7 linked regions of the Homo sapiens genome follow. The protein of the gene in region 2 purifies or fractionates together with the protein of the main gene of each other region. This does not show direct contact. Each region holds a gene or a part of one and is shown on either strand. Other genes may lie near its edges.

The links.
Region 1: the proteins of DDX31 (region 2) and BPIFB1 purify together in Homo sapiens (affinity purification with mass spectrometry; 2 studies listed by BioGRID and IntAct, with this or other methods). This does not show direct contact.
Region 3: the proteins of DDX31 (region 2) and PIP purify together in Homo sapiens (affinity purification with mass spectrometry; 2 studies listed by BioGRID and IntAct, with this or other methods). This does not show direct contact.
Region 4: the proteins of DDX31 (region 2) and MAGEB2 purify together in Homo sapiens (co-immunoprecipitation; 2 studies listed by BioGRID and IntAct, with this or other methods). This does not show direct contact.
Region 5: the proteins of DDX31 (region 2) and HP purify together in Homo sapiens (affinity purification with mass spectrometry; 2 studies listed by BioGRID and IntAct, with this or other methods). This does not show direct contact.
Region 6: the proteins of DDX31 (region 2) and LTF purify together in Homo sapiens (affinity purification with mass spectrometry; 2 studies listed by BioGRID and IntAct, with this or other methods). This does not show direct contact.
Region 7: the proteins of DDX31 (region 2) and BPIFB2 purify together in Homo sapiens (affinity purification with mass spectrometry; 2 studies listed by BioGRID and IntAct, with this or other methods). This does not show direct contact.

The regions. Positions count from the first base shown.
Region 1 is NC_000020.11:33,299,974-33,303,836, reverse strand, and holds part of BPIFB1 (BPI fold-containing family B member 1 precursor), read right to left. Parts: coding exon 3,853-3,863; intron 2,605-3,852; coding exon 2,425-2,604; intron 1,479-2,424; coding exon 1,425-1,478; intron 922-1,424; coding exon 763-921; intron 1-762. UniProt on the Homo sapiens protein: May play a role in innate immunity in mouth, nose and lungs. Binds bacterial lipopolysaccharide (LPS) and modulates the cellular responses to LPS.
Region 2 is NC_000009.12:132,663,392-132,667,254, forward strand, and holds part of DDX31 (ATP-dependent DNA helicase DDX31), read right to left. Parts: intron 27-3,863; exon of another isoform or gene 1-26. UniProt on the Homo sapiens protein: May have DNA helicase activity and RNA helicase activity. Probably have ssDNA and RNA dependent ATPase activity. Plays a role in ribosome biogenesis and TP53/p53 regulation through its interaction with NPM1.
Region 3 is NC_000007.14:143,130,542-143,134,922, reverse strand, and holds the start of PIP (prolactin-inducible protein precursor), read right to left. Parts: upstream 2,847-4,381; 5' UTR 2,807-2,846; coding exon 2,712-2,806; intron 1-2,711.
Region 4 is NC_000023.11:30,213,972-30,218,569, reverse strand, and holds the start of MAGEB2 (melanoma-associated antigen B2), read right to left. Parts: upstream 3,008-4,598; 5' UTR 2,915-3,007; intron 42-2,914; exon of another isoform or gene 1-41. UniProt on the Homo sapiens protein: May enhance ubiquitin ligase activity of RING-type zinc finger-containing E3 ubiquitin-protein ligases. Proposed to act through recruitment and/or stabilization of the Ubl-conjugating enzyme (E2) at the E3:substrate complex.
Region 5 is NC_000016.10:72,053,004-72,057,608, forward strand, and holds the start of HP (haptoglobin isoform 1 preproprotein), read left to right. Parts: upstream 1-1,501; 5' UTR 1,502-1,649; coding exon 1,650-1,654; intron 1,655-3,157; coding exon 3,158-3,240; intron 3,241-3,526; coding exon 3,527-3,628; intron 3,629-4,388; coding exon 4,389-4,463; intron 4,464-4,605. UniProt on the Homo sapiens protein: As a result of hemolysis, hemoglobin is found to accumulate in the kidney and is secreted in the urine. Haptoglobin captures, and combines with free plasma hemoglobin to allow hepatic recycling of heme iron and to prevent kidney damage.
Region 6 is NC_000003.12:46,435,025-46,438,268, forward strand, and holds the end of LTF (lactotransferrin isoform 1 preproprotein), read right to left. Parts: intron 3,106-3,244; coding exon 2,916-3,105; intron 1,206-2,915; coding exon 1,171-1,205; 3' UTR 621-1,170; downstream 1-620. UniProt on the Homo sapiens protein: Transferrins are iron binding transport proteins which can bind two Fe(3+) ions in association with the binding of an anion, usually bicarbonate. Lactoferricin binds to the bacterial surface and is crucial for the bactericidal functions.
Region 7 is NC_000020.11:33,006,488-33,010,783, reverse strand, and holds the start of BPIFB2 (BPI fold-containing family B member 2 precursor), read right to left. Parts: upstream 3,081-4,296; 5' UTR 3,024-3,080; intron 2,244-3,023; 5' UTR 2,210-2,243; coding exon 2,101-2,209; intron 1-2,100.

The sequences.
Region 1 (3,863 bases), on a different chromosome or scaffold from region 2:
GTTTGACCTCTCTGGGCCTCACCTGCCTCATCTGTTAAATGAGATAGTACTTGCCTCCACTCCCCATTTAACAGATGACAGTCTAGGCTTGCTGTGGGGAATGATAATGATGACGATGACGACGACGAAAGCAGCCACTATTCATAGAGCCCTCACTCCCTTACCCTAGTGTGTAGGTGGCCCAGCTCAGGAAGTTTTCATATTCCATTTTTCTGGACACACTGATTGGCTCAAGAATGGGCAACTGACTCAGGCTCATTCAGTGAGAGTCAGCCCTGAGATGTTTGCTGGAACTATTGGAAAGATAGGTTCTTCCTGCGGTGATTGCCAAGCTGATAGGATATGAGCCTAATGCAGCCTGGGGCACTACCATGAGGGAATAGCTTGCCTGAGGATGAAGGCAGCACAGAGGAAAACAAGGCTGCTAGGTGGGAGAGAGGAGAATGAAGAGGATATTGTTTGAGCACCTGGGTCCAGCTATTCCCGAAGTCAATAGCATCTAGACTTTTTAGTTATAGGAGCTAATACAATTCCTTTTGTGCATATGAGTTGAGTTTCTGTCCAGAGATTCCTGACTAAGAAAGTCACAGGGTTAGAATTGGACCCACAAAGCTCCTGGCTCTTGGTTCAGAGCTCCCTGTCCCCTGTCCCTGCTAAGTGATGAGAGTGGTGGAAATGTTTAACAAAGCAAGAGGGCGAACAGGAAAAGTAGACAGAAGGGTCCCCCTGGTTGCTGCCAATATCGCAGACAACTGAACTCACGATGCCCAGGGTGAACAAAGGGCGGAGGGCTTCACTGGAGGGAAACACTTCCAGCACGATCAGTTGGGCCACCTTGGCATGGCCTTGGTCTATAAAAAACTCGGGAGTGTCCTGAGTTAGGATCTTCACGATCTGGGTAGATCCCAGCTTATCTGCAGCCTGGAAGGAGATCAGACCCACATGTGGCCTCCCAAGTGCCCACCATGGCCCACAGGCTCTGTGTGTGGCCTGGCCCCTGCCTGCCTTCCTGGGCTCCCTGCTCCCTCACGTGTTCCAGCCACCCTGTCCTTCTTGCAGATCCTTGAATGTTGTGTTGTTCTCCCTACCTGGCAGCCTTTGGTCTCCTGTTCCCTCTGTCTGGAATGCCCTTCCCTTCAGGGAGGCCTCCCTGACGTCCCAGACTGTATCAGGGGCCCAGAGTGTTCTCATGGCCCCTAGAACCTGTCCTGTGTTACTGCAGCTGTAATGGAAATACTATCCATGTGATGATTTGCTTCAGGTCAAACTGGCCTGCTAGACTGAAATCTCTGTGCGGACAGGGATGCGGTTTGAGTGTCCCAGTGCTGGAATGAAACACTAGTCCCACTAGATTCTCCTCCCCAGAGGCCTGTGTCCAGACCACAGCAAACACCCCTCAAGCTGCAGATGGCAAACAGACCAACCTTTTCATTGATCAGCCCGATGCTTGACTTCAGCCGATGGGCACTCTCAGGAAGCTGAGGGTGAGAGGAGCCAGAGAAGGTCAGTTGGAGGGCACAGGGAGGCACATCTCCTGCACCCCACTGCTGGGAGGAAGGTTTCCCAGGACCCCAGAAAAGCTGGGTGGGCCCAGTGACCCAAGCCATGTGTCTGTCATTGGTGGAAAAACAGCCCCTAGGTCAGCTTCTATGGGGCATGGGGTCCTGCTGGCCTGGACTTTTACTGTGGGCTGGTGATGGTTGTGGGTCTGGGGGCAGCTTCCTGATCTCAGAGGACATAGAGAGGTGATTTCATTTTTACTGCAATCATGAATGGGCTAGTTGGTGACCACTCCCTATTTTCTCGCCATCCCAGTCCCCTGAGAGCTTGGTTATTGGTTGTCTGTCAGCTGCCCTGAAGTTCTGCCATCCTCCCATAACGTTGGACCAACCCTTTCCCCCTCTGGACCTCAATTTCCCCGTCAGTCACCCGGGAGGAGGTGGCACAACATAGTTGACTGGTGGTGGTTATCGGCTGTGCCCTGTTAATAAGGATTCCAAGGTTGTGTCAGCATCCAGACTCAGTAGAAAGGAGAGCCTTGATCGATTAGTGATGTCTGCCATGAGTGTCATAGTGGTGAGCAGTGGCACAGTCGCCATCCCTGGACTACTCACTATCTGAGATGTATTTATCACCCCTGGACTACTGCATATCTAAGATGCCTTTTGATTTCACGAGACTGTTATTTGGTAGAGGAAACATTTGCATCAGATTCCAGAGGGTAGAACCATGACTGGGGCTGGATGTTACCGGGAGGATTTTAGGTTTAGAGCTATGTCAGAGGCAGGGTCTATTAGAGGAGGGAGTGAGATCTCCATTAAACTGAGCCTGATGGAGGATTCCTGCTTAGGGGCACCCTGTGTTCAGGAAATTCCTATGATGTGGCCTGGGCGGCCCTATTCTCTGCCTTGTGCTGAGGTTTACCACAGAGTCCAACAGGACCATGAATTCTTCTGGAGAGAGCACAGCAGCCACTGCAGCTTTCACCACGTCCTGACTCACGATGAGGCTGAACGGGATGTTGTCCAGGGTGGGCATTGTCAGGGAAGCTGCAGAGTTATTGAACCACTTGGTCACCTTTCCCTGTGAGTCCAACAACTTGGCCTGAGGAGACAGAGCAGGGAGTCAGCTAAGAATTTTAACTCTGCAGCTTACCCAATAGCAACCTAGAAGGAAATGACACCATTCAGCCTGTTTCCTTTTTGTGCATTTGTTGCCAGGAAGCTTAGCCTGGAGCTCAGGTGTGTGGCAACATCTACTCCATCTTTGCCCCTCGGATAATCTCTGACTTTTATTTTTTGTACCAGATATCTTCGTTTTTTTTCCCATGCTTCAACTTCTCAGACACCTCAAACCCTTTGGATGGAGGGAAAATTAAAAACTACAACAAAATGGAAGAAACGATTTGATGCTGCAGTTTTCCAAAGGATCCATAGAAACTAGTCCAGGGGCCAGGCGTGTTGGCTCATGCTTGTAATCTTAGCACTTTGGGAGGCCGAAGTGGGAGGATCATTTGAGCCCAGGAGTTTGAGACCAGCCTGGGCAACATGGCGGAACCCCATCTTTACAAAAAATACAGAAAATTAGCCAGGCGTGGTGGCGAGTGCCTGCAGTCCCAGCTACTCAGGAGGTTGAGGTGAGAGGATCGCTTGAGCCCAGGAGGTCAAGGCTGCAGTGAGCTGTGATGGCACCACTGCACTCCAGCCTGGGTGACAGAGTGAGACTCAGTCTCAAAAAAACAAAACAAAAGAAACCTAGTCTGGGATTCATGCTACCAGGATGGTCTGGCCCTTTGGGGCGTCCAGCCACAGCATGGCTGTGCAGCTCCACATTGGACAGGGAGCTGACAGTTACTGGGCACTTCTGGTCTGCCAGGCATGGTGTGGTCTCATTTCATCCTCTCCTCAGTGGCCATTATTACTGACATTTTGCAGACAAGGAAACTGAGGCTCAGGGAGGTAAAGGAACTTGCCCAAAGTCACATAGCCAGGGAATCATAGAGCTAGGAGAGAAACTTAGGTCTGTGTTTCTTGATCCTTGGCTTTTGTTTCAAGGTTGTCATAGGTTTGGGGATTGGCAGGGACTTGCCTGAGAGAAAGGCTGAGGGCCCAGTGTCCCCACTCGGGCCCCCCCATGTCACTCTGGGTGACAGTGAGACTCAGTCTCAAAAAAACAAAACAAAACAAACTTGCATGGGACATATTCAGCCTGCAGTGATTTTTCTAGATCAGCCCGTGTCCTAATGGTGACCAGGATTTTCTCTCCTAACACAGGCCCATGCTATCTGACTCCTGGTGGTCAGAGAAGGGCAGCAATGTCCCCACTTCACCCTCAAGGTCCTGGGACACTCACCCCCAGGTAGA
Region 2 (3,863 bases):
CTGAGTCCCCGAGTCTCTGCCTGATTGCGGATTACAGGCTACACAGCACTAGGGATCTCTTGCCTGTTGCTTCTTATTTCCATTACAGGAATGTGCTTAAATGCATGATGTCCAAACTTCCCCTAGGAGAAGGAACATCCAATTCCTCTATTTTCTTTGGCCTTCTTTTCTGATTTACAAATGAATATAAAAGCATCCCTTGAGTAGCCAGTGCTTGTTATTCTGGAGTTTTGGGTTCTCTCAGAATATGTTATTTTCCTCTTTGCTTGAAATAATGACTTGGTTTTACATGTCGGCTTTCTTTAGCCATGACTGTCAGCTTCAGACTAACCTACCAATAACAACAGTTCTTTGTTCCCTAAGGATTCTTTTACCTAAGTAATTAAATACAACTTCAAATATCTAATATTAATAAAGTAAAAACGGACATATTCCATCTTACAAATTTATTTTTTACAAAATCTCAAGTTTATGAATTTTCAGATTAAAGAAAGAGATGAAATCAAGTTTCAGGTTTGTTGAATCATTTGCAAGACAGTATGAAATGTGCAGACTTCACCTGATTTACAGACCCAGGACTCCTGGAGCACAAAAACTCTTAAAGGCCACTCCCGCCATACATGGACTTCCTGACAGTCCCGGGCAGGTGGACTGGCAGCCTCTCCCTGCACACCTCCTGCATCCCATGAGGCAGCCCATTCTGTTCATGACCCATTCTAGGAATCAGGAAGCTGTCTCTGACATTTATGCAAGATCTGCATCCTTGAACATCTACCTAATAGTCTGAGGTATACTTTCTGCAGCAACACAGAACAAGCTTACTTCCTCTTAACACATAACATTCCTTCATATATCACATAACTCTCTTTTCTTTCTTCTTTGGACTCAATATTTCAAACAGGACACAACTTTAGATCCTTTATCATCTTGGTCACCCTTTATTCCTATGTCAACATCTCTCTAAAAGCAAGTACTCAGAGTTAAACCCATTAGGTTTTCCATTGCTCTTAGGCTGAACTAAAAAATCTGTAATATTGCCAGGTGCCATGGATCATGCCTGTAATCCCAGCACTTTGTGAGGCTGAGGTGAGCTGATTGCTTGAGGCCAGGAGTTCGAGACCAGCCTGGGCAATATGGTGAAACCCTGTCTCTACAAAAAAATACAAAAATTAGCTGGGCATGGTGGTGCATGTCTGTAGTCCCAGCTACCTGGAGGCTAAGTTGGGGGCATCACCTGAGCCCGGGAGGTCAAGGCTGGATTGAGTCGTGATGACGCCATGATGCCACTGCTCTCCAGCCTGGGTGACAGAGTAAGACCCTCGCTCAAAAAAAAAAAAAAAAAAAAACTGTAATATGATCAACAAAGCCTTCTAGAATCTGACCTCTGGCCACCTCACCAGCTTCAGCTTTACTCTCTGCCACTCGGGTCTTCCTTCAGTTCCTAGAATGTGCTGTGCTCCTTCCTCCTCCTTTGCACATGCTACTCCCACATCCAGGACTCCACTCTGCCCTCTGGCTGGCCACCCTGTACTCATCCTTCAGATGGAGGCTGACCAACTCCTTCCTCAGAAGAGCCTTTCCTGACCTCTCTTCACCCAGTCAAGCCAAGGTGCTCTGTTCTTGGCTCTCCTGGCACCCGTATTCTCCTCCATAGCATTCGACAAAATAATAAGCATAGCACGGAACTCGTTGTTTTATGTCTGTCTTTCCCGTTAGATTGTAAGCTCCACAAGAAAGGGGCCAGTCTGTCCTACATAGCACTGTATCCCCTGTATAGGCCCCTGTCTGGCAGAGTAAGCACTCAACAAATACTTGTAAGATGAATGAATAACACACAATGGAATTATCCCTTTCCACCAGCTGGATACGGTTCTACTACTTGTTAGCTTTTCTCCCCCAGCATCCAAAACACATTCATTTAGCAGTTGTCAAGAAGCTTCGTTCTGAAGATACAAAGTAGATTTGCCAAGCCCTTGAGGAAGTTACACACTAGCAGAGGAGACAAAAGTATAAAGGCATAAATCCAACCTCTACATTGGTGCTACAGAAGAGGTACATAAAAAAGGCTATGAGAGCACCAACAAAAGCTAGACTAACATGGCCTCCTTCTGGCAAAGGAGAGGGAGGCAAGAAAACCAAGAATGCTTCGTGAGGTAGCCTCTGAGCAGAGAGGGAGCAAGGACATATCTGAATCTACTAAAAATTACTACTAAAAATCTAAAATCTACTAAAAATCTACTAAAAAATTCGTTTGAGTCTCTGTTGCCGCACCTGTAAAATGAGGGGATTTTGGCAGATGACCTCTAGGGCCCATCAAGACCTGAGAGTCTAAGATGCCATGGCTTTGATATTAATAAACATACTGAGTAGTTACTATATGCCAAGGAGTATACTAAGTACTCACATGTATTCTCTCATTTATCAACACAGGTACTGTTATCATCTCATTTTAAGATGCAAACATGGAGGCAGAGATGTGACGTAATTTGTCCCAGAATCACTGAAGGAACCAGGCTTTCCCCAGGCATCATGATTCTACATTCTAGAGGCCTCACAACAATACTATAATCCCTTTTATTAACTGCATCCTCTTTGCTTTAGAAAACATGTGTATGCTGGAAACTTACTCTTTCTGCTCAACATTATAGTTTTGCCTTGTATAGTCTTAATCCACATGGATTTGGTTTTTTATACATAGTGCGAGATAAGGTTCCAATTTCAGTTTTTAAATTCACACAACCACACAACCAATTGTTCCAGTGCCACTTATTAAAAATGTCAGCTTTTCCTAAGCAATTTGCAGTGTCATCTCGGTCATGAATAAAATTTCCATTTTTGTATTGGTCTGCTTCTGGGCTCTCTTTTCTCCTTTGCTGGTCAATTTGTACAGTTTTGCACCTTATTCCAGACTGTCTGAAGAAATAGAGCTTCATAATAATTCTTAATTTTTGATAAGTTAAAAAAAAAAAAGAAAACATCATGTGTAGTGATTCCAATTTTGAGTTGTTCTCTAAAAGGACATACACCAAAATGGCAACAAGCATTGTCTGAGTATGGCAATTATGAGTGGGTTTTTAAAAATCTTTTTTCCTAATTTTCTATAATAAATTTGTATTAATATCAGAAATTTTTTTTTGTTTTGCTTTTGTTTTGAGACAGTCTCACACTGTCACCCCAGCTGGAGTGCAGTGATCTCTGCTCACTGCAACCTCCACTGGTTCCTGGGTTCAAGTGATTCTCGTGCCTCAGCCTCCCGAGTGGCTGGGATCACAGGCACCCACCACCACACCCAGCTATTTTTGTGTTTGTTTTTTGTTTTTGTTTTTTTTTTTTGAGACAGAGTCTCGCTCTGTCGCCCAGGCTGGAGTGCAGTGGCGCAATCTCGGCTCACTGCAAGCTCCGCCTCCTGGGTTCACAGCATTGTCCTGCCTCAGCCTCCCGAGTGGCTTGGACTATAGTCACCCACCACCAGCCACCACACCCGGCTAATTTTTTGTATTTTTAATAGAGACGGGGTTTCACTGTGTTAGCCAGGATGGTCTCGATCTCCTGACCTCGTGATCCACCGGCCTCGGCCTCCCAAAGTGCTGGGATTACAGGCGTGAGCCACTGCGCCAAGCCTTTTTTTTGTATTTTTAGTAGAGATGGGGTTTCACCGTGTTGGCCAGGCTGGTCTCCAACTCCTGACCTCAAGTGATCTGCCTGCCTCGGCCTCCCAAAGTGATGAGATTACAGGTGTGAGCCACCTCGCCCAGCCCAGAAAGTATTTTTAGAGAGAAAATTTCTGCATAGTGTTAGATACAGCATAATTTAAGCTGTTAGTCTTTCTAAATCCAGTATATTAGCTACCCATCTCAAGTTCA
Region 3 (4,381 bases), on a different chromosome or scaffold from region 2:
CCCACTACTGGGTATCTACCCAGAGGAAAAGAAGTCATTATTTAGAAAAGATACTTGCACATGCATGTTTATAGTAGCACAATTCACAATTGCAAAATCATGGAACCAACCCAAATGCCCATCAATGAACGAGCATCTTCTTCCCTTCCATTGACCAAAAACAAGTTTTTAAAAAGAAAAAATGTACAATACCACATGCCACTTCCTGATAACATCCTACAGGCTCTGGTGGTTGTCTACTGAGTAGGAGGGCTCAAGTCATTATTAGGAGAAAATTTTCTAGCAACAGAATCACATTAAACCAGCAAACCTCTTGATCAGGGAAATGCAAATCAAAACCACAATGCGATACCACCTTACTCCTGCAAGAATGGCCGTAATCAAAAAATCATAAAACAGTAGATGTTGGCGTGGATGCAGTGATCAGGGGACACTTCTATACTGCTGACGGGAATGTAAACTGCTACAACCACTATGTAAAACAGTGTGGAGATTCCTTAAAGAACTAAAAATAGAACCACCATTTGATCCAGCAATCCCACTACTGGGTATCTACCCAGAGGAAAAGAAGTCATTATTCAAAAAAGATACTTGCACACACATGTTTATAGCAGCACAATTCACAATTATAAAACTGTGGAACCAACCCAAATGCCCATCAATCAACGAGTGGATAAAGAAACTGTGGTATATATATATATATATATATATATATATATATATATATATATATATATATGATGGAATACTACTACTCAGCCATAATAAGGAATGAATTAACAGCATTTGCAGTGACCTGTATGAGATTGGAGACTATTATTCTAAGTGAAGTAACTCAGTAATGGAAAACCAAACATCGTATGTTCTCACTGATATGTGGGAGCTAAGCTTTGAGGACTCAAAAGCATAAGAATGATACAATGGACTTTGGGGACTTGCGGGGAAGAGTGGGAGAGGGGTGAGGGCTAAAAGACTACAAATATGGTGCAGTGTATACTGCTCGGGTGATGGGTGCACCAAAATCTCATCACCACTAAAGAACTTACTCATGTAACCAAATACCACTTGTACCCCAGTAACTTATGGAAAAATAAAATAAAATAATAAAAAATTTTAAAAACCCAGCAAACATCTCAATGCACTGGAGGTATTTGTAGGAGCATCTTTGAAGATCCTCCTTCTGTGGTCCCCAGGTAGGGTTTAGGAATTTGTATTTATTTAGCTCCTTAGGAAATTTGGACATATGGCCATGTTTGGGAACTTTAGATACTACTCTACATTTAGACCATACACTGCAATCTGAAAAGGAAAGGAAATGGAGACAAATAAAATGGTCAAATGTTCTTCTTCAGTCAATGAGGACTGGGTTCGGGGCCAGGAGAGTTATTTTCTCGTCCCTAGAAACTCCCGGCTACGGACCTTTGTTATTGTGTGGGACAGAAGGGAATTGAGATTCTTAGCCCACAGTGTCTCACAGCCCCATTTTCTTGGGGCAAAGCATCTTAGAGAGATTCTATTTTTTGGTGCCAACTGCTGTAGTGCCCAGTGCACAGGAAAAGGGTATAAATACCTAAGCAACTTCAAAATCTCTCCCATTTGTATATGAGTTTCAGATTGATAGGATGACCAGCTTAGTTCGAGTGACTAACCATCTCAGTTTACCCAGGACTGAGGTCTTTTCCAGAATGGGTTGTGGAGGTGGCGGGGGAGGGCAGAGTTGCAGTGCTACAACCAGGAAAGTTCTGGGCAAATCAGGATGGATGGTTGATAACCTAATTAGCATAGCTTATTTGAATACCTTGCTGCCCTTCAGGGCTAAGTGGACTGTCATCTGGCGGGAATGGGGTGGGATCTGAACCTGTCCCCATGCAGGGTTTCTTGGGACACTTGCCTCCATTACATTAGCTTGTCAAAACCCTGAACAGTTTCCTCCAGGACAGGATATCTGACCATGCCATAGAGAGTACCTCCAAGATCACAACCCAGAAACCCAGCATTATAAACCCTACTGCTATAGAGAAAACTCCCTAGATTGGGTATCGCTGCTTTCTCCCAGACCCTTGGCTCCATTTTCTACTTTATTTTACTTGCTCCAATTTTTCTGCTTCCTTCACACATGTGTTCTCAATAAGTTGACTTCTGAACCTGTGCTCTCAGGTCCCAGTATACGTGAGAGCAAGAGGTCATCATATTCATCTTCAGACTTCAGGTTAGGAAGAATGTCTAAGCTGCCAGTCTAGCTCAATCTCAGACCACAGGGCAGTGGCCAGGGCCTCTGGTCCTTTAGCCAGTCCTGCCAAAGCTGCCCTAAGCTGCCATTGGAATTCACAGACCTGTTATGCTTCTCTTCTAGGAGGCAAGGTGTGAGAAGGTAAAGTTTACTGAGCAGAAATCTGAACAAAGGTATAAATTATGAACAAGATGTGGATCAGCATGTTAGATGAAGACTAACTACTAATTACAGCCTGTAGGTACATTTGGAGCTTTATTTCCACTGGCAATGCAGAAACACCCAGCAAAAATGTGAGAGGAGTTGGTGGGGCTTCCTAAGAGGACAAGAAGTGGAACCTGGCAGGAGATCCATGGGAGCTCCTGGGACTAGAGTTCTGGGAAGTTGAAAGAAATTCTCAGAAAGAGATATGTAATTTCCAGACTGGGAGAGGAGCCCTCCCTGCAATTTTTTTTGTGGGGAGGAGAAGGGCATGGCTCACGTGTTGTCCTGAGCTTTGTTGGCCCCCAACTGCAGGCAGAGAACCAGGAGCAGGGTGGCAGGGCTGGCCCTGAACAGGAGCTGGAGCAAGCGCATGCTGGAGAAAACAGAAGGCAATGTGTCCCAGAGAAGTGGTGTCCCAGGTGCCCAGCACATTTCTTATATACAGATTGATCAAGGAAGTGCAAGAGCTGCCAGGGAGATCCATGAGGTGAATCACCCATTCACCCTCCCCACTCGTGATCTTTCCTTGTTGACCCAAAGTTTGTTTTTCTAAGAAAAAATCAACACTCAGCTAGAATGTCAGCGTTTGAGAGAGGAGTCAGATTGTTCTTCCTTATTTTTTCAGCATCAGAGTTTCTCAAAATGGCTGGGACCTCAAAAGATACACCAGTTTTTCCCGAGTTTACAGATTCAGTTTTCTTTTCCCTCCTAATTTGCCTGTCTGAAGTGCTATGTGTAGTCTTAGCTTCAGTCACTGCTCCCCTGGTCTCTGAAAGCAGAGAACACAGCTGTGGTGGCAGGTTTCAGACCAGAGACATAGAACATCTTTGCTTGATCAAATTATAGTGAGTTCAAGATGCAATGCTATTCAAAACATTTCTTGGAGGGCTAGGATGATCAGGACTTCCCTAGCAGTCACTACCCATCATGAGGTGGAAGAGCTAGAGAAGACCTGAGCTGCTCTACATGATGGGGAAGTGAGTTCAAGACACTGGGTGATGTAAAGATGTTTATTGTCATTGAGTCCTTCTTAATTTCAGGTGTGGTTGCAATATACTGCAGATGTCCAAGATCCCCAGCTGCCCCACAATCCCCAAGGCAGGGTGATATTTTAATTCTAGACAATTCCTATAAATAGCTGGCACCCCCAAATCAGACTTCTTGGCACCAAAGAGCTGGCTTATTTTCTTATTGACATGGCCACTTTCTTACACTTGTCTCATGCGTAAGCCACACAGGAAGAACCACAGTGGAAAGGATTCCTTCTGTGAGAATGGAGCCCACATTATGTCCAGTAGATACCCAGGTTGTAGAATTCCTCTCCTTGGGATGATGGGGAGACTTGCTCTTGCTGACACTGGCATTGTGTTATTTCTCCTTATGAAATTAAATCTGCTCCTTAACCTATGACTTACAATACTATGGGATTTGTTTCTATCATTTGCATGGCACACAGCTGCCCAGGAAGAGCCTCTCTGGCAACAGAGTGAAAATCAGAGTTCTAGGAGTTACCGCCTCTGTATGTTGCTTTAGCCAGGATTCAGAGCTAAAGTGTAAGTGTGTGCTTCTGCTTTCTGGATGTATCTCTCAAAATTGCTCTGTCTGTTTATTCAGCTCCTGGATCTACCTTCTCTTTTCTTTGAATTGGACACCATTCATGTCATTGCTCACTCAGAACTTCAGCTGTTCTCATGATCACATGCTTTCTTCCCTGTTTATGTCCTATCCACTCAAGAACACTGCTTGTGAGGGTCACAATGACCTTCCTTTGTAAGCCTTTTCCCACAATTAAATTGTCTTTACACCTGGTCCTTCTCACTTGCATAATTTCCATTTGAAGCACATCCTAGCTACACTGACCAAGGCAGGCATAAGGCAGAAGAATCTAGGAAGTGTCTGTGTGGGAAAATGCAGGAAAAGTTCTTTGCTTGGCTCTTTGAAGGCATA
Region 4 (4,598 bases), on a different chromosome or scaffold from region 2:
AAACCAAGAAATGTGGGCAGAAGAATAGATGGTTAGTATACCTGGAGATGGGAGAATGAGATCTGTGAGCACCTTCAGCTGGAAGACCCCATCTTAGCTTTACTGAAGGAAGCCTGCCTTTGCAAGTTTCCCTGAAGGCACTGTTCTAGAAAGCCACAAGGCTCCTGTCGTCCTGGTTATCCTTTCCCCTGAGACACCAGAGAAGAACCACAGAACCCCTACAGTGAGTTTCAGACTGCATTCTGTCAGCCCTTCCTTGGGCTTACTATGGTGACAGGAGGTACTGGCAGTGCGGCCTCCTGTCTTCTGGTGTTTGGGGTTTTATCAGTTAACTTTTAGGATTATCATATGAAGTCTTGGCAGGGCCTGAGCCACTCCCTTCCGCTACTGTGAATTTGACACCTCAAAGCACCCTGGGACTCATGAGAAGAAATTGAAGGGGTGCCTCAACCACCACCCTGAGAAGTGACACCCAGTGCTGAGAGTTCAGTGGGGTCTTTGATGTCTTGGAATCATTAGAGTCTTCAGCTCTCATTCAAGGTCCCCACCTTGGCTTCATGTAGGGCTTGGCACCAGCCCCCTTCTGCTGAGTGGTGGCTACACCGTCAGACTAAGAATCTCACCTCTCTTAGATCTTATATAAAAAAGAGAGGGGGACACTAAACCTGATAACCCTTTCCTGAGCTTTCTAGGGCTGAAAATAAAGGGTTGGACTGGATTCTTTGATGTCTCCACTGTTAAGGGTTCAGTGGTTCCTTGAATTCTCAGATTCCTCAATTTGACTCCTGGTAGAGGAGCTCTCCTTTTTATTGAACTGAGGCCTATGTCGTCATGGTAAGAGTGAACATCCCTGAGAACCCATAGGAGGAAGTGAGGGTGGCCTTATCTGACCAAATGTGGTCTTCCCAAAAGTAAAAGCTGTGGCAGGCAGATAACTGCCCTGTGATAGATGGTCCCACATACAGTCCCAACTCAGCCTCTAAATTTGACTCATGAGAGGGTCTAAGATTCTTCCCTGATATGGTTTGGATCTGTATCCTCACCAAATCTCATGTCTAACTGTAATCCTCAATGTTGGAGGTGGAGCCTGGTGGGAGATGACTGGATCATGAGGGCAGGTTTTTCATGAATGGTTTAGCACCATTCCCCTTAACGATGACTTCTCATGAGATCTGGTCATTTAAAAGTGTGTAGCGCCTCCCCTGGCCTCTTGATCCTGCTCTGGCCATGTAACATGTCTGCTTCCCCTTCCCCTTCTGCCATGATTGTAAATTTCCTGAGCCCTGCTCCCAGAAGCTGAGCAAATGCCAGCATCATGCTTCCTGTACAGCCTGCAGAACTGTGAGCCAATTAAACCTCTTTTCTTTGTAAATTACCCAGTCTTGGGTATTTATAGTAATGCCAGAATGGACCAATTAGTACATTACTTCTGTTGACAAGTGATCACCACCCTCAGATTAAAACTCTCATTTCCCTGTTACCCTTGAGTGGGAACTGATGGGCACCTCTGTTTCACATTTCTGCCTGGGGTCTCTCAGAGCTGACAGTACTGAGGATTGTGTGGCTCCCACTAATATGGGGTGGGAGCCCCCTGCAGTCGTCAGAGTTCTTATCATAACATCTGGCACAACCTGGAAACCCTCCCTCTGCTGACCTCAAGCTGCCTTTTTTTTTTTTTTTTTTAAGAGACGGAGTCTCGCCCTTTCGCCTAGGCCGGACTGCAGTGGCTCTATCTCGGCTCACTGCAAACTCCGCCTCCCAGGTTCACACCATTCTCCTGCCTCAGCCTCCCGAGTAGCTGGGATTACAGGCGCCCGCCACCGCTCCCCGCTAATTTTTTTTTTGGTATTTTTAGTAGAGACAGGGTTTCACCGTGTTAGCCAGGATGGTCTCGATCTCCTGACCTCGTGATCCGCCTGTCTCGGCCTCCCAAAGTGCTGGGATTACAGGCGTGAGCCACCGCGCCCGGCCAGGCTGCCCTCTTTAATGGGGTCGTTCACTTCTCTGAGATGTCTTGGGGAGAGTGAGTACAACTCAACATGCCATGCTCAGGTCTCCCTGGTCTGACAACAAGAGTGGGCTCTATATGGCACTTCTTTCTGGTTGGAGTCCCCTCCTCATCACTCAGTGTCACATCCTTGCTTCCTGTTAGAGACTGGGCCTCTCTGTCGCATTAGACCTACCCCATTACACCAAGACCCTCACCTCCCTGAGACCACCTCCAGAGGAAACTAGAGAGCATCTCAGCTTGCTAGCTTTGCCCTGACCTTCCTATTGCTGGCAGCAGATGTGGGTCTTGGATGTAGCCCTCAACTTCTTTAGTCCCGGGAGAGGAAGTCAGGTTGCTCTGCATTTGTCATGTCAGCCTGGGACCATCTAAAACCCAGTGTCACCTCGGCCTGGGAACTGCCCAGCATGACTCCTCTTTTGGGTAGAGGTCCGCTCATTAATACTCAGAGTCCTCACCTTAACCCCAGTTAGGTTTTAGGTTGATGCCATATGAGCAGAAGCAGGGCTGCTTCCTAGGTTCAAGGCCCTCCCCTCCCTGAGACTTTCCAGGCACAGCTTTGCTGGGGCCTCCCAGAGCCGTCTTCAGGGACGAGACTTAGTGAGGCCACCTTTGTTAAGGGTAGGAGATGTTCTCTTCAGTCCACATTTAGGGCCCTCAAATTGATTTCAGTTAGGGCCTACACCCACCCTACGTGCAGAATGAGGCCTATTCCCTGCGTCCAAACCTCCTTCCCCCGCGACTGCCCCTCCCCCCACCCTTCCCCTGCCCTGGAACTTTCCAGGTGGAACATTGCCGGACGGCTTTACCGGAGCCTCTCAGGACCAAATGCAGAAGCGGGACTTAGTGGGGCCCTCTTTGTTACAGGTGGGGGTGGTCTCTTCAGTTTACACTCAGGGTCCTCACCTTGACTGCCGACCAGTCCTGAGAATTCACCCCTGGCTGACCAGACGCCGCACCCCCTACACTCGCTCGGGTCCTCGCCTCCAAAGCGGAAGTCAGGATGAGCCACATCCGCTCGGGTCTTTTTTTTCAAAGCGGAAGTCAGGATGACTCACATCCGGCAGCCCGTGGCGTCTGAGGGCTGACGGCTGGACGCTACCGGACGTCACTGTTCTAGCGTTGCTGGTCCCTTCGTCTCCACTAGGGGTCCTCACCTCAGTATCTAGCAGCCTGGGACGAATATGCGTGCTGACCCAAATCCGCCAGCCTCCAAACAATACCCCCACCTCCCTCAGCCCCCACTGTGGAAATCTAAGCGTGCCAAACAGGCCACCCCTGCCTGGGCCTCACAGGCCTGACAGCAGCGGCAGGGCTCTGTGAATGTGCCTTTTTTGGGGAGAGGTCTTCTCATCCGCCCTCAGAGTCCTCACCTTGATTCCCGTGAAAGCCAAGACTCTCTCTCTGCACAACTGGGGTCACCCTCTTCAGACAAAGGCCCTTCCTTCCCCGAGACTATACAGGTGGAATGAAGGGGATTCAGAGATACTTATTTTGGGGCCTCTCGGTGCTAACAATGGCGAGGGGCTCTGTTTGGCCCCCTCTGCTGGTGTTGCAAGGGGGAGAGCCCCCTCGTAACACTTAGGATCCTCACCTTGATTCCTGTTAGGGCGTGGGTTTTGTCTCTTTGACCTAGGGCCATTTCCACTAGTCCAAGGTCTTCACCTCTGTGAAACACACGAGGCATATTGATGGGATTTCTCCACCTCATAATTCTCTTCTGGGCTCCCCAAGGGTGACAGCATTGGTGGAATTTGTGGGCTCCTCTGTTCTGGGGTGGGTGGTTTTGAAACTGCCCCTATGAACTGTATAAAATTAATCAGGGAAGAGGGAAGGGAGATAAATGAAGATACGCCAAGCTTGCAGAACATTCAGCATTAATCATGAAGTCAGCTGCTCTCTGACCTGCTTCCTCATAGTAGTTTGGTGCCTATTATCCCAGAATCATGTAGATCCTGTTACTAGATTATAGTTGCCCTTAATTGCTCTATAGATAACAATTTTAACATAATGAAACTTTTTTTCTTTGAGATATTCCTTAAGGTCCTGCATACTGATGATTCTAATGACTCAGCTGGTCTGAAGGACCCCACTGATGCCAGCTGCTCTAAAGGACCCTACTGACATCAGCTGGTCCAAAAGACCCCACAGGAGCTGACTAAAAAAAAAAAAACGCAGTTTCCACATTCTGATGATTTCATCCCCTTTACCCCAACGAATCAACAACCTCAGTTCTCCAGCCCCTCGCCCTCCATGATCTCCTTGCAAATCCCAGCCCAGAACTCCTTGGGGAGATGAATTTGAGAGTCTCTTCTCATCTCCTCACTTGGCACCCTGCAATCATTAAACTCTTTGCTGCAAACTTTGCTGTTTTATTATAGTGGGTCTGTTACTTTGCAGCTGACACAGAAACTCGTTGGTCCTATAACAGTTCTCTTATTTCTCTTCAGGGTCCTCACCATGACACCTGGCCAGTCTTGGGGCACTCCATCCTCCACTGACCTGAGGCTGTTCCCATCAGATCAAGGTACTCACCCTCTGCCGACCTCTGAACTGGAAGTTGTGGTGAGCTACATTTAGCCAGGGCTGT
Region 5 (4,605 bases), on a different chromosome or scaffold from region 2:
GTGCTTTTTGGCACTTTATGTATATTTTTTGGAGAAATGTCTATTTAAATCCTTTGCCCATGCTTTAATTGTTTGTCTTTTTGTTGTTGTAGTTAGGATATGCTCTGGATAACAACCCTTTATCAGATATAGAATTTGCAAATATTTTCTCCCATTCTGTAGACTGTCTTCACTTTTTTTTTTGAGACAGAGTCTTGTTCTGTCACCCAGGCTGGAGTGCAGTGGTGCGATCTAGGCTCACTGCAACCTCTGCCTCCCAGGTTCAAGCAATTCTCCTGCCTCAGCCTCCGAGTAGCTGGGATTAAAGCATGCGCCACCATGCCTGGCTAATTTTTGTATTTTTAGTAGAGATGGAATTTCACCACATTGGTCAGGCTGGTCTCAAACTCCTGACCTCATGATCCGCCCACCTCAGCCTCCCGAAGTGCTGGGATTACAGGCGTGAGCCACCACGCCTGGCCTGTCTTCATTTTATTAATACTGTCTTTTGATACACAAATGTTCATTCCGATGAAGCCCAATTTATCTAATTTTTCTTTGATTGCTGGTGATTTTGGTGTCATTATCTAAGAATCCATTGCCAAGTTTTACTTGGTTTTGATCTCTAGAAGACTGCCATCATACTGAAGGTAATCTTCTGAAACTTGCGGTTTTCTTTCAAAAATTATGTTTATAAGATGATCCATGTTCTTGCAGAGTTTATTCATTTTATGCTGTATAATATTCCATTATATCCACATACAATGCAGTATTGACCCTTCCTCCTGTTGATGGGCATTTGTCTTGTTTCTAGTTACTTTGCTATTATATCAGTGTCACCATGATTATCCAAAAGTAATTCTTTTGTACACTCTAATTTAAGAACAACTAACCCTTTTTAATGAATAAATCAACCTTGTATTGAGTTGCTACTAAGTTTCAGTTGACTAGTACCTGGGATACACACAGGTGCAGACATTTGACTGAGACATATTGATTTTTCTCATCTGCCTATTTAGGCTAATCACCAGACTATAAAACCATGAGAACCACTGCCATTGAGTATAGTCTGTGTCAGTCTACACTATAGCTTTAACTAGTTGTGTGATTTCTTGCAAAGAGCAATCAGAGAAGACACAATAAACACATTTACTGATTTCAGGCTGGAGAGCTTTTAAGCAATAGGGAGATGGCCACACACAAGGTGGAGAAAATTACTGTGAAAAGGAAGTACTTTCTTTAGAGCCCCACCTAAGCTAGGCTGCAGAAATGTCTACAATGGGTTTGAAAAAACTCAAAATGAGCCTTTCTGCAGTGTGAAAATCCTCCAAGATAAAGAGACAGATTGATGGTTCCTGCCGCCGCCCTGTCCTGCCCAGTTGCTGATTTCAGGAAATACTTTGGCAGGTTTGTGGGTCATAGAGTTGCCAGGTTTCTTGGGATTTGTAATAGAACATCACAAGAAAATCAAGTGTGAAGCAAGAGCTCAACTCTTAACAGGGGTATTGTTTGTGGTTTTGTTACTGGAAAAGATAGTGACCTTACCAGGGCCAAAGTTTGTAGACACAGGAATTACGAAATGGAGAAGGGGGAGAAGTGAGCTAGTGGCAGCATAAAAAGACCAGCAGATGCCCCACAGCACTGCTCTTCCAGAGGCAAGACCAACCAAGATGAGGTGGGTCCACAGCTTTCCCTCCTGCCTTTCCTCTGGTTCTTTATTTCAGTCTTTTTTGCATACATCGGTAGAGATGCAGAAATAGAACAAAGAAACGGGCAAATGGGCTAAATTATAGTGAACCAAAGGGCTTAGTGTGTTAAATCTTCTCCTTTTCTGCATCCATAGAAGACAGTGCTGCTGTCTTTCCCAGGAGATAAGATTTACTCTCAGGAGTGTCTTTTTCCTTCAGGTTACATTTTTGACTTTATAGGGTATGTCATCAGCTCCCGTGGTAGGCTTCCTGGCATCCTGAGTATATTTATTAGCAGATATTTTCCTCTTTAAAAATGTACAATAAGGAAGACTAATAGTAACACATTTGAATGACACAATTAATTGACTAGTACCTGGGATACACACTAATACCTGGGATACATCTAATTAAGGCACTTAGATCTTATAAAAATAAACACTTTTTGAAATGTTGAAATAATAAGACTAGAAACTTTTTTTTTTTTTGAGATGGAGTCTCGCTTTGTCACCAGGCTGCAGTGCAGTGGCATGATCTCGGCTCACTGCAACCTCCACCTCCCAGGTTCAAGTGATTCTCCTGCCTCAGCCTCCCAGGTAGCTGGGACTACAGGCGTGCGCCACTATGCCCACCTAATTTTTGTATTTTTAGTAGAGACGGGCTTTCACCATGTTGGCCAGGATGACCTCGATCTCTTGACCTCGTGATCTGCCTGCCTTGGCCTCCCAAAGTGCTGGGATTACAGGCATGAGCCACCGTGTCTGGCCTAGAAACTATTTTAATAGAAGCAAGTAGTGCCCGAATGGTTGGCATTTGTTAGTGAGATGGTGAACTGGCAGACGGCACCTGTGGGTCAATGCCCATGGCCACCGTCCTGCTTTTGGACACCAGTTCTCTTCCAGGTAACCTTCTGGCATTTTGGGGTTTCAGATACCATTTCCTAAAGGTGAATTATTATAAAATACTAGAAATACCCACGTGTTTAAAATTATATATTTAAGGAACCTTTTATTACGGAAAATATCAAGAAGTAGAGGAATAGCACAGTAAGCCCAAAGTTCCCATCTCTGAGTTATCTACATTTTATTACCACTATCTTTGCGGTGTCTGAGGGAGGTTTCTCTTTCCTGGAGGGCTCCTGTATTATTGCCAATGTACTTTCCTGAATGCAGCCAGAAACTGAGCCCACCCCTCCACCTATGTGCCTTTCTATCCCTCTCTGAAGCTTCTGCAGAATTCCCAGCAGGACAGGGCTTGCTGGAAGCTTGGTATGCTCAGAAGCTGCTAAAGTGTGTATGGGCAGGTGTGGGGGCAATTTCTTGGTCCTAGCACTTCCATATATCGACTTTCTTTTCTGGCTGCTAAGTGGGAGGAGTGTGTGTGTATGCATGTGTGTGTGTGTGTGTGTACATGCATGTGTGTGTGGATGCATGCATGTGCTGTGAAGCAGGGAGACTAGCTTTCCACTCCTCCTTGTCTTCTCTCTGCAGTGCCCTGGGAGCTGTCATTGCCCTCCTGCTCTGGGGACAGCTTTTTGCAGTGGACTCAGGCAATGATGTCACGGATATCGCAGGTCAGTCTTTGGTTGGGTAGGAGTGTGCATCCCACTCTGACCCTCTCGGGTCTGCACTCTCTCTGAGAACACCCAATTCCCCCTTCTTATCTCGACCTCTGGGCTTTCAGGACCATAAAGAACATTGGGGTTCCTGCCAGAAATGAGGGGAGCTTGCCTTTCCATTGGCTTCTATTCGGGGTGGAAGGAGATTGATGTGCAGAGCAGCTCCCGCTCATCTGACTTTTCACGGTTCACTGGGAACAATTTCCAAATAGCAAACTCTCTGGCTTCTCTCTCTTTGCAGATGACGGCTGCCCGAAGCCCCCCGAGATTGCACATGGCTATGTGGAGCACTCGGTTCGCTACCAGTGTAAGAACTACTACAAACTGCGCACAGAAGGAGATGGTAAGATGTGGACAACTGTCTCCATGCCCTACATACAACCCCCTTCTCTGACATTTCCATGATGGGTGGTGCTGAGGTGATTCGCCAGAAAGTTCGTTGCTCTCCTTGGAGCCAGGAGATTTAGATTCTAATAAGCGTTTTGTCGCCAGTAGCCATGGCCCTTTGGGCAGACTAACTTTTGTCAGCCTCAAGTTTTCTGTTTTGTTAAGGGGAGGCGATGCCATGCAGCCTACCTCATGTAAATCTCAGAGTCACATTTACATCTCCAGCAGATGTGGGAAAAGAAGGAATGCTGATGATGATGTCACCCTCACCTAGTGAGTCTTGCTGTCCTGGCACTGCTCTAAGGGCTTTATACTTATTTGCTCACTTAGTCCTCACAGTATCCCTCTGAACAGAGTTTATTGTTTTCACTTTGCTGATAAGGAAACTGAGGCACAGACAGGTTGAGTATCTTGCCCAAATTCAGGCAGCCTGTAAGAGGCAGAGTCAGGATTTGAACCCTGAGCCCTCCCTGTACTGCTTGGCTGTGACCGCCATGACCACAGTGTGTTCTGCTGGGCTTAACTGGTGTCCAGGCACTTGGCTTCCAGCACAGCACTCTTTCCCTTCCTCCTTCTCATATTCTCTCTCCTTTCTCCCTTCCTGTCTGCCTCCTTTCTTCTTCTTCTTTTTAATTCTTCTCCTTAAATGCCTTCTCACTCTGCTCTGGGTGCAGACTTGACTTTTCCTTTGGCTCATTTCTTGCCTTTTGTTTCAGGAGTATACACCTTAAATGATAAGAAGCAGTGGATAAATAAGGCTGTTGGAGATAAACTTCCTGAATGTGAAGCAGGTGGGTGCTGAGCACTGAGCACTTAAGAGAGCAGGCAGGCGTCCAGCGGGGAACGTCCTAGAGGCACAGCCTTCCAGTGCGGCTTCCTCTGAGCACACAAGAGCCAGGAGGAGGGATGTGGGAGAACCGCAGCTGGCCAGGG
Region 6 (3,244 bases), on a different chromosome or scaffold from region 2:
CAGAGTTTCAGGACACTTGTCTGATCTCTGCCCTTGAAGGAACAGTCTCACCCTGATTGACACTTTTGCCTGTTATGTCCAAAGAACCAATGGAAAAGCAGGAAAATTATTCCTTCTTCATTTCTCTCTTCATTATTTAAAATTATTCTGTCTTCACTTCTCTCTCCTTTTCTCTGCTTCCTACTTAGCTCTTTAGAAATGCAATTATAATCTTTTATCTCCCCTTCACCAGACACTCCCAACAGGGCAAGTTCATCTAACTATGTGCTCTTAGTTAGACGCTACAGAGCAGAACTCTCTCCCACCAAGAGACTACCTTGAGACATAACAGTCAATTCACAAGCCAAAATATGCCCGCTATGAAACTCTCCCATCTGGAAATTTTTTGGCTGCTTTTACAACCTAGTTTTGCCCACAAAGGCACCAGCAGTAACCAACTCAACTGCCTGGTAGACAAGGCACCAAAGCCAGTACCCAGACCCTCTACCTGCTCACTTCCTGCCTTGCATGCCACGCCCCCCATTTAAAAGCCTCTGCTTTCTGCTCCAAAGGTGAAGCAGTTACCCTTAAGGAAAGAAGCCTGTACTTCTTCCCCTAAGGTAGCTTTGGAATAAAAGTCACTTTATACCAAACCTAGCTCTTGTTAATTAGACTCTGCAAGTGATGAGCAACTGAACCTACATTTCAGTTATAATTCCTATGCTTGCTCTTCCTGCCCTGCCTTGGGGACACGCACACACTCCCAGGCACATACATGCACGTGCACTGAGACAGCTATGTGAATAACCAACAAGATCCCCTTAGGAAAACCGGTGCTTGGCCTGGCCTTAAATTCCAGACCCTTGGGCATCATACCCAAGACTGCAAGAAAGAGGAGGGGCTGGACCTGAAAAACTTGGAAGGGAAGGTCCAACTGTACAGGTATTTTGTCAGGCATGTGATTTCAGTATAAAATTCTAGAAAAGATGAGTGACACTTTATAAGGAGAGAATATCAACAAAATTTCTCATTTTACTTCTTGCTAAGACGACAGCAGGGAATTGTAAGCAGATGGATGGGCAATCCCCACCTTCAGCAGGGGAGGCCAAGGCCCCAACACACCTGGGGAGAAGAGCTGGGGGCAGTGAATGGCTGAGGCTTTCTTGGGGAGCTGGGCCATCTTCTTCGGTTTTACTTCCTGAGGAATTCACAGGCTTCCAGGAGGGCTGTGGGACACAACAGAGCAAGAGATTCAGAAACTGATTTCTTCCATTAAACCAGTTATTTAATCCAATAAATCAAAGAGAATACTAAGAGTTTTCTCTGCCCTTCTCCCATCACTGAGTCAGTGCTTGCCACACTCATATTCCCACTCCCCTACTCCTAGCGACTACGGTGTTCAAGGGAGCCAGAGTCTAGCCCTCACCAGCCAGGGTGTTTCCCTGCTCTGGCCTGAGAGACACAACCACCCTGCACTTGTCTCTGATTGAATCGACTGTCACATTCTCAAGTTCACAAGACATTGGTGGTCCTCTAGCTTCTCCCGGAATGTGAACCTGTTTGCAATCATGTTCACCTGCAGATTCACTCATTCATTCACAGATCCTTACTGAGCACCTGCTTTGTGTGAGTTGCTGTGCTAAGTGCTGGGGACACAGCATGGATAGACTGGCCTGCCCTCAAGAAGCATGTGGTCTATGCAGTCCTGAGCTGGCTGCTCACAAGAAGAGCCCTGTAGCCATATTTCTCAGAGGGTGGTCCTGACCTGCATCACAGTGACCTGAGTTGTTTGTCAATACAGAAAAGGGTTTCTCAACCTTGGCACTATTGACATTTGGGGCCTGATAATAACCCTTTATTGCAGGGGGCTGGCTGTGCTTTGTTTAGTAGCATCCCTGGCCTCTACCTATTTGTTACCAGCAGCACCCTCTATGTTGTAAGAATCAAAAAAATGCTTCTCACATTGTCAAATATCCCCTCAGGGGAAAAATTGTCTCTCATTGAAAACTACCGATAAAGACATTTCTGGCCCTGCCCCCATCCTTGGACCAACAGCATCCCTAATGCCCCCAACTCTGGGTGAGGGACCAGGAATAGGAATCTGAATGATTGCAGTGCACAGGGAGCTGTGCACACTGAAATCCCACAGTTATCACCGGGAGCCTTACAATACTCTGTGATGTCTTCTAAATATTTTTAAGGGATTAAATTAATATCAACATATTTCCCTGGTTAAGATGTGTTTTCCTACACTTGAATTTTTTTGAGATTTTGTTTTCTCTATAGTTGGCATCTATGGTAACTGTCTAGAATCAGATTTTTTTTTTTTTTTTTTGAGGAAGGGTCTTTCGGTGTCACCTAGGCTGTAGTGCAGTGGTACAATCATAGCTCACTGCAGCTTCAACCTTCTGGGATCAAGCAATCCTCCTATTTCAGCCTCTCAAGTAGCTGGGACTAGAGGTGCTTGACACCACACCAGGCTAATTTTTAAAATTATTTTTGTAGAACAAGGTCTCTCTGTGTTGGCCACATTGGTCTCAAACTCCCGGGCTCAAGCCATCCTCCCACCTCTGCTTCCCAAGGTGGTGGGATGACAGGTGTGAGCCATCACACGTGGCTGGTTTTGTCATTTCTCAATGCATATGTATATATGCACCTTTCATTTTACTGAATAAAATGGATTATCAGTTTCCAAAGATTTCATGACAGTGCCATCACTATCCGTACTATAAAATTTATAAAAATTTATTACATACTGCTCTATTTTATTCTCTAATTATTTTATCAATGAGATTATAATTTCCTGAACTGTAAAGAGATATTATCTTTCCTTAACATTTTTACACCTGTGTTCGTTCCTAGAATGCTGTTTGGCCCTCAAACCTTGACCTTCACCCATGGTGGTTTCTCGGGGATGCTAGCTAGGGTCTACTTACGGGAGGTTGAGCACTTTTTCAGATTAGTAATGCCTGCGACATACTGTGGTCCCAAATATTTTTCATATGTTGTTTTGCCATGGAGTCTGGCCAGACACTCAGTGTTGTCATTGAACAGAAGGTTTTTGGTTTCAGACTGGAATAAGCAAAACTTGTCCGGGCAGTCAGATCCATTTCTCCCAAATTTAGCCTGCGACAAAAGGGCAGACAGTGAGTAGCTAAGGAAAAGAGGAATTTATGGGTTAAAGGAGGCAAAGGGGTATTTCTTCCACCCAAGAACAGCCCTGAGAAAACCATGGGGCAGAAGGAGCTGAGTTCTGGAGTCATTC
Region 7 (4,296 bases), on a different chromosome or scaffold from region 2:
CCTGCTGATTTACCCCGTCCTTCAAAAGCAACAAAATCCTTTGCCCTCTTGCAAGGTTCCAACCAGATCCCATCTCCTCTGGGAGCCTTCCCTAAGTTCCCAAGCAGAAGGGGCATCTCCCAGTCATCCCTGGCCTGCTGTGGAGGCGCCCATGGGAGCAGAGGGGACGTCCCTTGGGAGGGGAGGGGACAGCCTCACCTGGGGGCTGAGGACTCAAGAGTCTCTCAGATCCTGGTTTCAAACCGCAGTGCTCACTGCTACTCACTGCCTGTGTGGCTACTCTGTGCCTCAGTTTCCCCATCTATACATCTGCAATGATTCTAATGGTATCTGTCACATAGGATCATTGTAAACACTCAGTGCACAGCAAATGCTAGCTTCTACCATTGCTATTTATTTTTGTAATAATAGCGGCAATCGTTTATGTTGTGATCCTGTAGTGCCAGGCCCTGTTCTGAGTGCTTTACTTTTCCTGTTATCGTGCCCAGTTTACAGAGAGGTGAGGGCACCTGGCCAGGGAAAGCTGGCTTTGGACCGAGGGACCTGGCTCCCGAGCCTCTGGGCATCCTCACTCACCTGTGCTGCTGAGCCCCAGAGAGGTGCTAATTAAGCAGGAGTTGAATTAGAATAAGAGGTGATGGTGCTGGAAGGGAGCTTCAAATGAGGAGTCAAGAGGCCTGCCCACTGCTCAGACTCACTGTGGGAACTTGAGGAGTCCCTGCACCTCTCTGGTTCTTAGTCTCCCCCAACAAGAAGCATAAAGGCGGTGGTTTCCATGTTTCCCAGCACCCCTCTCCCACCTAACCATCTGCAGCTGAGCTGGAACTCACACCCAGACCTCAGACTCCATCTACAGTGCTCCCTTGACGCAGGGTTTGAACTCTGGGGCTTGCAGGATGGGGTGGGGAGGACACTGGAAGTAGCCACTCAGCCCAGCCTGGGGAGCAATGCGTCCAGCGTGGGCCTCCAGCCAGATTTCTGCCAAAAACAAACACAGGCAGGCAAGCTGGGGAGGGCTCCCTGGGGACAAAGGAGGCTTGCACAGGATGGGCAGAGGGCAGGAAGGCGGCGGAGGGCGCGGGCCTCATGGCCCTACCTGCAGGCATCCATGAATGGCTCCATGTCATGCTCTGGCACGGATCACTGACCCCTTTCATTGCCTGCCCATCAGCCCGGATATGAGGTCCCGGAAGGCTGTGTTTACCCAGGGGTGGGGGAAACCTGCTACTTCCCTGAGCCACTGCTTCATGTCCTGGGCCACTGAAGGTCCCATCTACTGTCTGACCTGACTTTCTCACACTGTAATCTGAGTTTGGCCTTGGGGGAAACCGCTTCTGATCTCCTGGCTTTGGTGGGAAACCAAATTCTCACCGGGAGGCAACTCGAGGTGAATAAACATGTTTGTGCTGGCGTCCTGGACCTTGGCAATGTCTGTCCCTCCCTGGGGCTAAGTTTCTTCATTGTGCCCTCCTTAGGGGATTGGGGCAAGACTTGGAAGGATCTAGCAGCACAGCCGTAAGACAGAGCCCTCGCACAAGTGGGACCCAGAGAGCGGATGGTTCTCTCACGCTGAGCTCAGAAGGGATATAACTTTAGAACACTCCTTGCATCACGGTGCTAGACAGACCTCTCCCAAGAACACACGTGCGTGCACACACCACATACGCAAACGTGTACACCCAGGGTGAACAGCCGTACCTGTGCACACACATCCAGGCAGCATCATGGGCTTGCACCCTCCCCGACACTTAAGTACACACGTGGGCACAGCTCTATGAAATTTCAAACTCATAAGTAGACACACACAGGTAAAAATAGCCCCTCAAACCGACCTATGCCCACATCACCAAAGCATGTGAGCAAGTCACATGTGCACACTTGCACACTGGCCACATGACGTACTCCCCCCTCACGCATTTATGTAATAAGCATTTGTTGAGCAGCGCCATGTGTCAGGCACTGTCTGGGTGCCAGGGACACAACTTCCAATTAAAATCTGGGTCCTCATGGGCCTTTTGAGTTCACAGCTACGCACACACACTTAGGATTGCACACGCATGTACAGGCTCACAGACACTCACTGGGTAACACACCGCTTACCGTAGCTCAATGCTGCCTTGTTGAGTCGGACCACGGTGCCTGGCGTGGAGGCACCGACCACGGGCAGCAGCAGTGCCAGCAGCAGGCCCAGCCTACTTGCCCAAGCCATGGCTGCCCTGGCCGCTGCCCACAGGATCTGTGGGCTGGGGTAGAAATGAGCATCAGGGAGCTCAGCCAAAACAGCCCACCCCTGAGCCACCCGAACCCCACTCCAGCCTGGAGGGAACAAGCCCTGACTGGTGATCCCAGCCCTGCCCCAGGCCCACAGACATCAGTTTTTGCATCTCTGCATTGGGAACCATCACCTTGCCTTGCTTGCTTCATCAGGAATCATGGGGGAGTCCCTTCTGGAAATGACCCGCAATGCCCAGAGAAGAAATGGTCTTGCCTAGGGCCACACAGTGGACTGGGACCAGGTGCAGGACCCAAGCCATGGCATAGAAGGATGGTGAGACTCCCAAACGGGGAGACTGAGGGTAGTTTCCTGTCCCAAGAAGATGCCCAGGACTGTATCACCTGATGCCGGAGTCCAGCCCCGTGTGACAGCCAGCTTGGTGTCCAGCTGTCCACCAAATTCAGCCAGGGGAGGACCCAGGGTGGCTCCTGTCCTCATCCCCTCCTGGCCAGGTGGTAAATGGCCTAAGAGTAGGCCTCTCACATGGCCCCCATCCTCTCCTGACTCAGTCTGGCCAAATAGGCAGATCTGTGTCTGACTCAGGGAGAGGGAGCCAGGCAGGAGTGAGGGACTGCGGCTCAGGTGGGTCTGCTGAGACCCAGGATGGCGGCACTTGCCCAGGTCCTACAGCAAGGCCAGGGGTGGAAGGACCCTTCTGCAGAGGGTGGCTGGAGGTAGCATCCCCACTGAACAGATAGAGAAGCCAAGCCTCCTTGGAAGTGGTGTACCAGCCCAGCCCCATGCCTACCTCAGGTGGTTCCTGAGACAGGTGAACTCTCAGCCCCAGGGTAGCCCTCCTCTGCCCGAGGCAGGCAGATGCAGAGGCTACTTTATAAGGCTCCCAATGTGCAGAGTCCACTGGGAAGGGACCCAGGGAGCGGCGAGTTTGCTTGTGGTTGCAAGTGTTTTCCCTGCAAACATGGCCTTTGCCAAAGTGTCTCATCCCACATGTGCGCTGGGGCTGCCACGTAGCCAGTAGCCAGGCCCAGCTCCCAACCACTACAAGCCCCTGGGGCTAGGCAGCTATGGCCTTAGTGAGGGCCAGGAGATCTCTGGAAGGAAAGCTGCTTCTAGGAGGGTATCTTATCATGCCCAGCCAAGGCCTGGGAGGATGGGGCCCATGAGGACCCCATCCCCCCTCCCATAGGCAAGGGGATGGCTGCAATGACCCCTCAAGCCTGGTACCTCCAAGCTCTCTCGGAAACATGACCCTTTTAGGAGGGGCAGAAGGCTACCTGAGCACCATCCTCAGTCATTGACTGAGCCCTGACCCTGTCACATATTCACACACTGAGTCCTGACCCCAGTTACTGAGCTCTGACCCTGATCACATGCTGAGCCCTGATCCCAGTCACAAACTGAGCCCTAACTCAGAAGGGAACAGAAGAGAAAGTGTGCGTGACCTGTCCCCACAGCTTAACATCCCAGCCTCTCTCCAAATGCACATTCCACTCACAATGGATTAGTCCACGGTCTCTTTCCACATTACAAACGTCAGCCTCCGCCTTGGCTGGATGGGACCCAAGGAACTGTGTGTGCGCATGAAGGAATTTGCATATGCACATGTGTGGATGAGGGTTGTGTTGATACATGCATGTGAGTGTGTGTGCATAGTCACATGTACGGGGAAAATGTGTGCTCTTATGTGTGAGTGTGGACATGAAATGGGCACGTTGGCATCTTGGTTTATGGTGTTGTGTGTCTATTCACACAATCCAACAGGACCACAGAGGTGGGGAGTTTTGTGTACATGTATGCATGTGTGGGCTTGGCCTACTGAGTGTTTGTGGGTCTGTGAGTGTGTGGTGTTAGGTGCATGTGTGTATGCAAGTGGACTGTTTCCTGGGATGGGGAGGTACATGTATATATGTTCTTGTGTGTGTGCATATATGTGTGCACAGCAGGCGATGGCCTTTCCATTTTTCTTCATTGGCACAGGATGACTTGGGGCCTTTCCCCAACTCCAGGGCACTCTTTGACTCCCACTGACCCCACACCAGCCCAAATATCAGGCCCAGCTC